Linked DNA regions of Homo sapiens. The protein of the gene in region 2 purifies or fractionates together with the protein of the main gene of each other region. This does not show direct contact. Each region holds a gene or a part of one and is shown on either strand. Other genes may lie near its edges. The genes, in order: POLD1, CLSPN and LACC1.

The links.
Region 1: the proteins of CLSPN (region 2) and POLD1 purify together in Homo sapiens (affinity purification with western blotting, with the first as the bait; one study listed by BioGRID). This does not show direct contact.
Region 3: the proteins of CLSPN (region 2) and LACC1 purify together in Homo sapiens (pull-down; one large-scale study listed by IntAct). This does not show direct contact.

Annotation. Positions count from the first base shown.
Region 1 is NC_000019.10:50,401,312-50,404,962, forward strand, and holds part of POLD1 (DNA polymerase delta catalytic subunit), read left to right. Parts: intron 1-466; coding exon 467-613; intron 614-687; coding exon 688-813; intron 814-893; coding exon 894-1,062; intron 1,063-1,142; coding exon 1,143-1,224; intron 1,225-1,300; coding exon 1,301-1,430; intron 1,431-1,741; coding exon 1,742-1,908; intron 1,909-2,181; coding exon 2,182-2,286; intron 2,287-3,651. UniProt on the Homo sapiens protein: As the catalytic component of the trimeric (Pol-delta3 complex) and tetrameric DNA polymerase delta complexes (Pol-delta4 complex), plays a crucial role in high fidelity genome replication, including in lagging strand synthesis, and repair.
Region 2 is NC_000001.11:35,735,479-35,739,129, forward strand, and holds part of CLSPN (claspin), read right to left. Parts: intron 3,105-3,651; coding exon 2,977-3,104; intron 2,620-2,976; coding exon 2,514-2,619; intron 1,944-2,513; coding exon 1,861-1,943; intron 1,598-1,860; coding exon 1,436-1,597; intron 1,129-1,435; coding exon 1,018-1,128; 3' UTR 1-1,017.
Region 3 is NC_000013.11:43,886,312-43,889,962, reverse strand, and holds part of LACC1 (purine nucleoside phosphorylase LACC1), read right to left. Parts: exon of another isoform or gene 3,173-3,651; intron 1,207-3,172; coding exon 981-1,206; intron 1-980. UniProt on the Homo sapiens protein: Purine nucleoside enzyme that catalyzes the phosphorolysis of adenosine, guanosine and inosine nucleosides, yielding D-ribose 1-phosphate and the respective free bases, adenine, guanine and hypoxanthine.

The DNA.
Region 1 (3,651 bases), on a different chromosome or scaffold from region 2:
AGAGACAAATATATTTATTTGTACATATAATATGTGTGTGTATTTGTGTATATGTGTATATATATATATATATATATATATTTTTTTTTTTTTTTTTTTTTTTTCTTTTTTTTGAGACTGGGTCTCGCTCTTTTGCCCAGGCTGGTCTCAAAGTCCTGGGCTCTAGCGATCCTCCCGCCTTGGCCTCACAAAGCACTGGAATCACAGGTGTGAGTCACTGTGCACGGCCAGTTGTTTTTATCTTGTAATAAAAAAGAAGGGCCTCCCTGTAGTTGTGCTGTGGAGAATGGATCCTGGGGGATGAGGCTGGAGATGGGAACCAGGGGGGAGGCTGAAATGGACACAGGGAACGGTACAGGGGCAGGAGTGCCCCAGGCTGCAGGCCCCAAGGTATTTCGAGGCTGTGGAGACACACCTTGGAGGACCCTGAGAGGCATGGCCGCTGTCTTACCCTGTGACCCCACAGGCCCAGCGCAGCCTGTGCCTGGGGGGCCCCCACCATCCCGCGGCTCCGTGCCTGTGCTCCGCGCCTTCGGGGTCACCGATGAGGGGTTCTCTGTCTGCTGCCACATCCACGGCTTCGCTCCCTACTTCTACACCCCAGCGCCCCCTGGTGAGTGGCCCCTACCCAGCCCCTCCCTGAGCCACTGGAGCCCCCTGCACCTCTGATCATCCCTCCCACACCAGGTTTCGGGCCCGAGCACATGGGTGACCTGCAACGGGAGCTGAACTTGGCCATCAGCCGGGACAGTCGCGGGGGGAGGGAGCTGACTGGGCCGGCCGTGCTGGCTGTGGAACTGTGCTCCCGAGAGAGTGAGTGCTCCCCCAGGATCAGCGGGTTGGAGGGTCCCCTCGGGAGGCCATTGGCTGGTCCCAGCTTCTTCCATCCACAGGCATGTTTGGGTACCACGGGCACGGCCCCTCCCCGTTCCTGCGCATCACCGTGGCGCTGCCGCGCCTCGTGGCCCCGGCCCGCCGTCTCCTGGAACAGGGCATCCGTGTGGCAGGCCTGGGCACGCCCAGCTTCGCGCCCTACGAGGCCAACGTCGACTTTGAGATCCGGTACGGCCTCTGCCTCACTTCTCCGGCCTCTATCCCCACCCTCGGGCAGCCCCTGTCCACTGACCCCCAGCCCCCTCCAGGTTCATGGTGGACACGGACATCGTCGGCTGCAACTGGCTGGAGCTCCCAGCTGGGAAATACGCCCTGAGGCTGAAGGAGAAGGTGCAGGGCTTCCCAGGGCAGGGCTGGGTGGGGAGCTGGTACCCTGCTGCCACCGCTGACCCACCCATGCCCACAGGCTACGCAGTGCCAGCTGGAGGCGGACGTGCTGTGGTCTGACGTGGTCAGTCACCCACCGGAAGGGCCATGGCAGCGCATTGCGCCCTTGCGCGTGCTCAGCTTCGATATCGAGTGCGCCGGCCGCAAAGGTCTGTCCCCGGGCCCGGGCTCCTGCCCGCCTCATTGATGTGCCAAGTCGGGGGTCGGAAAGGCAGGTCCGGTGGAGGGAATGGCAAGCATGAAGGTGCCGGGGCAGGAGCACCCCAGCCCATGTGGCCAGATGGAGTGAGCACAGAGGGTGTGGAGATGGCCTGGAGGTGAGAGCAGAGCAGGAGCCAGGGTGAGCCACGTAGGGCCGGCAGGCAGCGGGGACAGCCCCGGGGAGATGGCAGGTGCAGCCTCCCTGCTGTGTTGGGAGTGAGGGGCAGGAGTCAGGCCCCTGCATCCTCCTGCCTCGCAGGCATCTTCCCTGAGCCTGAGCGGGACCCTGTCATCCAGATCTGCTCGCTGGGCCTGCGCTGGGGGGAGCCGGAGCCCTTCCTACGCCTGGCGCTCACCCTGCGGCCCTGTGCCCCCATCCTGGGTGCCAAGGTGCAGAGCTACGAGAAGGAGGAGGACCTGCTGCAGGTAGCTCTCGCTCCACGCCCCACACCATTTCCCGGGGTCCCCGCCAGCCTCCGCGTCCTGAGCCATCAGCTCCTGGGTGCTGCGACGCCCATGTCTGTGGGTCTGGGTGGGTGTCTGTGGGTCTGGGTGGGCCCCTGTGCAATTAGGCTTGAGCACTTCCCCTCTGGGTTCTGCAGGATTTTCAGGGGTGGCTGGGGTTCTAGAACATTCTGGAAGTAGGGGAATCCGAGGCAGGGCAACCACCAGGGTGACCCAATGTGCTCCCACCCCCAGGCCTGGTCCACCTTCATCCGTATCATGGACCCCGACGTGATCACCGGTTACAACATCCAGAACTTCGACCTTCCGTACCTCATCTCTCGGGCCCAGACCCTCAAGGTGAGGGCTGGGCAGGTGGGAGGCTTCTCTCAGATGCCCCAGGTGTGGCCTCCGGGCCCTGGGCCTCCTTCCCACTCCCTCTCCACATGGCTTGGTGCATCTTGCTCTGTGTGCCTCAGCCGATTGCCTGCAGGGGCAGCCTAGGCCTGGTCCTGCCCTGCTCCAAGTCGAAAAAGTTACTGTGGCTTTTATCAGAGGCAAGGAGGGCGTTACGGTGGAGTAAGAGAAGGCTGTGCATTCAAGGTCGGCCTGAAGCTTGCAGGGGTTCAACAAGCCATGAAGCAGCCACTGAATCCCAGTCTTCCTTTAGGTTATATCAGCATAAGGAAAAGAATCATAATGGAGGAGGAGGGGGGAGTGTGTTGACTGATGGGGCAAATTCCGGATGCTTCTTGAGTCTGCATGTGTGTAAGGGTGGATTCCTCTGCCCGAGTTGCTGTAACAAAGAGCCACAGACCAGGTGGCTGAAAACAGCAAAAAGTCATTGTCTCACCGTCCTGAAGGCTGGAAAGTCCATGACCAAAGTGTCAGCGGGCCTGCTTCCTTCGGGGGCTGCAAGGGAGGACTGGTTCACGGCCTCTCTCCTTGGCTTGCAGACGGCCATCATCCCCCTGTGCCTCTTCACACCGTCTTCTCTCTGTGCGTGTCTGTTTCCACATGTCCTCCCTTTTTTTTTTTTTTCCAAGACAAAGTCTCGCTCTGTCGCCCAGGCTGGAGTGCAGTGGCGCAATCTTGGCTCACTGCAAACTCCGCCTCCCAGGTTCATGCCATTCTCCTGCCTCAGCCTCCCAAGTAGCTGGGACTACAGGCGCCCGCCACCACGCCTGGCTAATTTTTTGTGTTTTTAGTAGAGACGGGGTTTCACTGTGTTAGCGAGGATGGTCTTGATCTCCTGACCTTGTGATCCGTCTGCCTCGGCCTCCCAAAGTGTTGGGATTATAGGCGTGAGCTACTGCACCCAACCCCTTTTCTCTTTCTTTTTTTTTTTTTTTTTTTTTTGAGACAGAGTCTCGCTGTGTCGCCCAGGCTGGAGTGCGATGGCACGATCGAGGCTCACTGCAACCTCCACCTCCCAGGTTCAAGCGATTCTCCTGCCTCAGCCTCCCAAGTAGCTGGGATTACAGGCGTGAGCCACCACGCCCCGCAAATTTTTGCTTTTTTGTTATTGTTTCTTGAGATGGAATTTCGCTCTTGTTGCCCAGGCTGGAGTGCAATGGCACGATCTTGGCTCACCACAACCTCCGCCTCCCAGGGGGCGCTGGGGTGTAGAAGTGATTCTCCTGCCTCAGCCTCCCAAGTAGCTGGGATTATAGGCACCCGCTTCCATGCCCGACTAATTTTGTATTTTTAGTAGACAGGGTTTCT
Region 2 (3,651 bases):
AGCTGGATCACTTGAGGTCAGGAGATCGAGACCAGCCTGGCCAACATGGTGACTCCCTGTCTCCACTAAAAATACAAAAATTAGCCAGGTGTGGTGGCATGCACCTGTAGTCCCAGCTACTTGGGAGGCTGAGACAGGAGAATCACTTGAACCCGGGAGGCAGAGGTTGCCGTGAGCCGAGATTGCGCCACTGCACTCCAGACTGGGCAACAAAGTGAGACTATCTCAAAAAAAAAAAAAGAAATCTTTCTTTCACCGAGCCCTGGTCATCATGGTACGTATCTCATGGGTGTAAAGGAGTCATTATGGTACTGATTTTCACTGTTTAATCTGTAATGTCACACTTTTCCCTACTCTTCCTCTTCCAACCACTTCTATCAATCACAAAGAGATATTAACCCAGAAAGCTGCTACAATAAAATGTCAAATGTCTAATGGAGGAAGTGAAACCTAACCCAAGGCCAGGTGCAGTGACTCATGCATGTGACCAGCACTTTGTGGGGCCGAGGTGGATGGATCATTTGAGGTCAGGAGTTCAAGACCAGCCTGGCCAACATGGTGAAACCCCGTCTCTACTAAAAATACAAAAATTAGCTGGGCGTATTGGCACATGCCTGTAATCCCAGCTACTCGGGAGGCTGAAGGAGGAGAATCGCTTGAACCTGGGAGGCAGAGATTGTGGTGAGCCGAGATCACGCCACTGCACTCCAAGCTGGGCAACAGAGTGAGACTCCCATCTTAAAAAAAAAAAAAAAAAGGAAACCTCACCCAAGTATTCCATGAGTTGTTGATGTTGTAAATACTGCAGAATTGAAATCAGTGGCCAATTCAGGGAATAATACTAGGAAAAGAGATGTCCAGAGCTGTGCAGTAGAAATCACTGGAATTTCTGTCTGCAATCTTATTGCATTGATTATGAAAGAAGGAAGGATCATTGGCTGGAGTGTCAATTCCAACTTTCAGTGCTAGAAACTTCTCAAAGCAGTCTCAATGTAGATTTTGGCACCTTTGATGGTGTTAGCTCTCCAAATATTTGAAGATGCTTCGCGTCAATCCTGAAGTGCTATCATCTGTTTTGAGGTGCTTAGGTGAAGGAGAAGTCATGAAAGATGGACCCCTTTTCTTTACCTAGAGAGCAGAGAGGGAGTCAGGGCCAGCTAAAGACCTTCATACAAGTATTTACCTTCAATTAGCTCTCAAGCAACTCATAAATTGTGGATGATTAACAACAGAAAAAAAGAAAGAAAGATAAACTTTCTCGGCAAGTTTAAAAGTTGATTACCGACTGGGGTAGCAATTCTCTTGTACCTTATCGGGGAGTGCAAGATTTCAACATTGCAGCATAGAGGTTAAGCCAGAATTTTTGTTTTTAAATTTAAATAAATGAATAAATTCTGGTTTGGGAAGCCACCATATTAGTTCTCAAATTCCATACCTGAGACTTAGACGATTCCTTTGCCGCCTCAGCCTTGACAGGAGAAAGTGTATGAAAGACAAAGTTTCTTGAATTTCGAGGAGCACTGGGGTTATGGTCAGAGAGAGCAGCCAGTTTCTGAAGCACAGCTTTGGGCTGGTTTAGCAGTGAGCCTGTCTTCACCTGAGGAAAGAAGAGTCATCTGGTATCAAATCCCAAGTGCCAACTAAAGAATGAAAAGTCCTTCCCTCCCTGCTTCCCCCTAGATATTGAGGGTACATATGCCTACCCTATTCAAATAGAAAAGAAATAGCAGACTCCTTTGACATTAACTTTTTCCCTGCAGCCACCTCCTTCCTCTAATGACAGAGACTATTCTCTAAGCTGGACCTGGGCCTTTATAACCTGTAGACTATGATGTCAGATTAACAAGGTTCCCAACCAACCTGTTGAGCACTTCCTGGTCTGATGGCTTCAAAAGGATTTCTGAGCAAAGACTTTGATTCCTGAATAACCATAGGGCGACTGGCTGGAAAGAAAAGACAGAGAGGCCTATTCTGGGAAAAGCTGATTAGAATTACTTTTAAATCTAAACAAGCTAAGAAATCTTGTAACTAAATCAATATGCTAAAGCCATGGGAACTCTGTTCTATATAATGGTGACTTTCAAACTATAATAATTGGCTCCAAGAAGAGACACAACTAAGTTGAACAGTAATCATTTAAGAAAAACAGAAGTGGTCAGTGTAGGGAATAGTGAAGAGCTTCATTTCTGGAGTTAAATATTCCTGGATTCAAATCCTACCTCTAACACTTAGGTATACAATCCTGGGCAACTAGAGAAAGCCAGAATTAACTACTCTGAGCCTTAGAACATAAAGTAAAACCAGCCACATATACTCATGAATACAGTCTCTACTGCCCAATAGTCTAAGATCTAAGTACACTGTCTCCCACCACCTCTGTGAAGCCTCTTTAAGACAGTATTAGACACAAGCTTATGATTAAGCTGCAACAGCTCCTGAAGGTTAGAGTCACCTCCAAAGCTCTACCACTAACAATCCAGGGGGCTAGACCCTAAGGAGAAACAAGAGCTCACCATTCTTCTGCAGTGCTTTGGCTGTAACTTTCTTGGCCAGTATCATAAACTGACTGTCCTCCCCAATTTCTTCTTCTTCTTCAGCTGTAATTTTCCCCTGCTGTGCCTGAAAAAAAAAAAAAATATATATATATATATATATATATATACAGCATTAAAAGTCTATAACCTTCCTAAATAGTTAGCATGGCCTGGATTGTGAAACTAGAGTTCCTGGGGTATTTGTTTTCCTTTTTGCAGCCTTTGCTGCTTTAGACAAAAAAAAATTAATCTTAGACAAACATGAAGAGAACTGTCTATGGTATAGCCTTCTCAAAACACAAAAGATAGCTCAAGGATTAAAAGAGATAGCAATATGTTGCCTAAGATTTTGAAACTATCATGACAAGCTAAGATTTTGAAACTATCATGACAAGCTAAGGGACAGTCTCATAAACTAGGGTCAGAGTAGGTGAACTCCTACCATGTCCCGAAGCCACTGCTCTCGTTCAATTCGCTCCTTCCTCCACCTGGCTTCTGACTCATCAAGCTGTTCTTCAGTCTGATCATCATCAGAGTCTCTGTGGAACAAGTCCATCTGGGAAGCATCATCTAAACAAAGAGTGAAGGTAATCAGCATTCGGCAGTCCTCACAGGAGAGGGTGCTTGGACAGACAAAAAATAAACCCTTATCATTTACTATATAATGATGTAAACTTTTCCCATCCATTAACAGAAAACAGTTACAACTAGGTCTTCACATAGCCTGTTATAGTTTTGCTTGCCATTTGCCATCTGAAACTCGACAAATATGCATTGTAACTGTTTGCTTTTTTTTTTTTTTTTTTGAGATGGAGTCTCGCTCTGTCGCCCAGGCTGGAGTGCAATGGCATGATCTCTGCTCACTGCAACCTCCGTCTCCCGGGTTCACGCAATTCTCCTGCCTCAGCCTCCTGAGTAGCTGGGATTACAGGCGCGTGCCATCACAGCCTGCTAATTTTTGAACTTTTAGTAGGGACGGGGTTTCACCATGTTGTTCAGGCTGGTCCTGAACTCCTGACCTTGTGATCCACCTGCCTCTGCCTCCCAAAGTGTTGGGATTACAGGCGTGAGCCACCATGCTCAGCCCGTAACTGATTGCTTTTAAAGACAACAACCA
Region 3 (3,651 bases), on a different chromosome or scaffold from region 2:
TAGTCAGGGAAAAAAATGCTACACTTTATCAGCATTTATCACCTAAGTTCATATATGCACAGTACAACCTTCCATATTGTCTTATAGACATAATCTAGGTACAGAATTTTATAATCAAAATCAAGTGCTTATTTAAGAAGAAATGTCTACAAAAGTTACCAGGATATCAGGCAAAATTCACCTGGCTCAGCCAGAGTATGCTTTTTAGTCATCTGGCCCTTCATCTCCTTTCCTTCTATTAGCCAGATTTTTCTCAGAAAACTTGCTTCTCCATGAACACTTTATGATATGAAATATGACTACAAGTTAGTGATACTTGATTTTAAAAGTCACATTTAAGAATCAATTTCAAACTTTTCCACATCTGTACTAAATGAGGCAGACTCTGGGTAAAGTTTTGGCGACTGGAATAGAAACATGATTTAAAACATACATTAATTTGCCTTTGTAGTAATGACAAATAATTTTCACCAGTTATTAATAACAAAACCTTGTAAATTAAAAGATGCGAAGAACTGTAAAAAACTTAAAAGTAAAAAACCGTGTATTTATATTATCTAATATTTTTTCTAAAAAACATATTCCTCTAGTTAATTAGATAATAAGAATAATTTTAAAATATCAGCTTCCTGATAGTTCATTACATTTAGGAGAATTTAGCTGAGGAATGGCTGTGAAGTAAAGTACACGCCAACTTTTCTATATGAAGTTTAAGTAGATCTCTTAAAATTAAATGCCAAATATTTCTTCCTTCACTTTTAAATCAATGAAAGATACCAGACAGGAAAATTTCTGTTATTCAAACTCAAATGAAAACAGATTTCATATTTAAAATGAGTGTTTGTGTACATGTGCATGTCAGCTGCTTAAATAACCACCACCTAAATTCTTCTTAGAGTTATTAATTGTTCTCCAAAATAAATTTCATTTTAGAACAATCAGAAATAATCAAACTTGCAGTTGAATGAAATCAGACATACCTTGTGGCTTTACGGATGTCGATACAGGGATTTGGTGAATCAAATAGTTGTACACATGCAGGATGAAGATTATGAAATGCCTCTGCTGATTCCCTTGGAAGAGTAAAACAGCAAGGTCCTACTGAAGGTCCAAGTACAACAACAATGTCTTCCAAACTGCAGCCATATTCTGCTATCATAGCATTCACTGTAGCCATAGCAACACCCAACAAAGTACCTTTCCAACCTGGTAAATAGGAATAAAAAGAGATAAGAGAAGTCAAAACATAAAAAATTTCACCTGAATTTATGTCTAAGTTAAAAGTGAGCAGATTTAGTTTGTATATTTTTCAAAGTCCAGAAATAATAAATTACATTATCATGTGGTTTTTAAATGAGCCATACTACACAAAGCACCTGACACAGAAGAGACATGTAATGGGAGTTTTCTTCATCTTCCATTTAAAGATGCTCTATACTTTTAGTTTCCACTGAGATCATAGCTTCTTAGTCTTCTATTTTTCACATTTTAAAAGATTGTGGTTAAAAACCCACAAAATTTACTATTATAACCACAAAAAAATACTATTCTAAGTATACAGTTCAGTAGTGTTGAACTCACATTGTTGTATAACCAATCTCCAGAATTTTTTCATTTGATAAAATGGAAACTCTACAACTATTAACAATAACTCCTTGTTTCTTCCTTTTACCAGCCCCTGGCAATCACCATTCTTCTTCCAGTTCCTGTACATTTGATTACTGTAGGTATATCATATAAGTGAAATCAATACAGTATTTATCTTTTTGTGACTGACTGATTTCACTTAGCATAATGTCCTTAAGGTTCATCTATATTGTAGTATGTGTCAGAATATCCTGCCTTTTTAAAGCTAAATAATATTCCATTGTATGCACACACATTTTGCTTATCCATTCATCTACCAATGTACCTTAGATTGCTTTCACCTTTTGGCTATTGCGAATAATCGTGTTATCAACATTGGTGTGCAAATATCTCTTTGAGTTCCTGATTTCAGTTATTTTGGATATACTTCCAGAAGAGGAATTTCTGGATTATATGGTAATCTATTTATAATTTTTTGAGAAATTGCCATACTGTTTTCTATAGTGGCTACACAATTTCACATTCCCACCACCAGTGCACCAGGATTTCAACTTCTCCATATCCTCAACAACACTTATTTTCTGAGGTTTTAAAATATTAGCCATCCTAATGGATGTGGGGTGATATTTCACTGTGGTTTTGATTTGCGTTTCTCTAACTTCTAATCCATGAACACAGAATTTCTCTGCATTTATTTGTGTCTTCTTTAATGTCCTTCAGCAATGTTTTGCAGTTTTCATCTCTCCCTTTTTACAAAAATATATCTATTATATTTCAATTAACAGCCTCTTTTTACTCCCTTCCCACTTGCCCAGACTATCGTTCCCTTGCCATCTTTGTCTTATCTGCCTTGCATCTTACAGTGTTCTAAGATAAAACCATCTTCTTTACTTATGCTACCTTCTTGTTGCCAAAGACAGAAAGCTAAGAATATTGCATTTTTCCTTTATTCCCTATATCTGGGTTTGATTCAGCTGATATGGTTGGCCAATAATGAGTACCCTTACACCTTCCTTAAGCACTCCATACTCATACCCTTCAAAAGGTAGGCACTCAGGTGAAGGGATCAATTTTTACAGATAAAAGGAGATGATGAAAGCAAGAAGGACTTAGGTGACAGGTTCAGCCTCTACAGGTAACCCACTGAATATGTGGTTATGGGAAGTACAGAATGAAGACATCAAGTTTCTATCTGTAAGTGGGTAGGATATCAATAATTAAAACAGGAAACCTAACTGGCAGAGAAGACTTTAGGAAAAAAATGTTGAGTTTTTGACATAATGATTTTCAGGCACCTAGGAAGATGCAGACAGTGATGTTCAAAGGGAAGCAACTAGATATAGGCATTTTGAGTTAAAGAGAGAAACTGTCAGGGCTTTTCTACAGATGAGAGTAGCTCTCTTCCTCAGTGAGCCTCCTTAGTTATCCTCTCACTTGTAGTTCATCCACCTCCTTTCTATTTGATTTTTCTATGCCTATCTATATATACATATCTAGTTAAAAGATCTTTATTAAATTAGTCCCATAGAAGAATTTTATTCTTTTTGATATCTGATAAAAGTAGTATACAATGTAGCTAATTATATTATATTTTAAAGTTAATTTATTTTTATTCTTCCAACTTTTTAGGTTCGGGGTACATATATGCAGGTTTGTTACATGGGTAAATTGCATGTCACTGGGGTTTCGTGTACAAACGATTTCATCACCCAAGTAGTGGACATAGTACCGAACAGACAGTTCTTCAGTCGTCACCCTCCTCCCACCCACCACCCTTAAGTAAGCCCCCATGTCCATTGTCCCTTTTTTTGTGTCCATGTGTACTCAATGTGTAGCTCCCACTTAAAGGATACATATGGTATCTGATTTTCTGTTCCTGCATTAATTCATTTAGGATGGCTTCCAGCTGCATCTATGTTGCTGTAAGGATATGATTTCATTCTTTTTTATGGCTTTATAGTATTCCATTATGTATATGTACCATATTTTCTTTATCCAGTCCACCACTGATGGGCATCTAAGTTGATTCCATGTCTTCATTATTGTGAAAAGTGCTGTGATGAA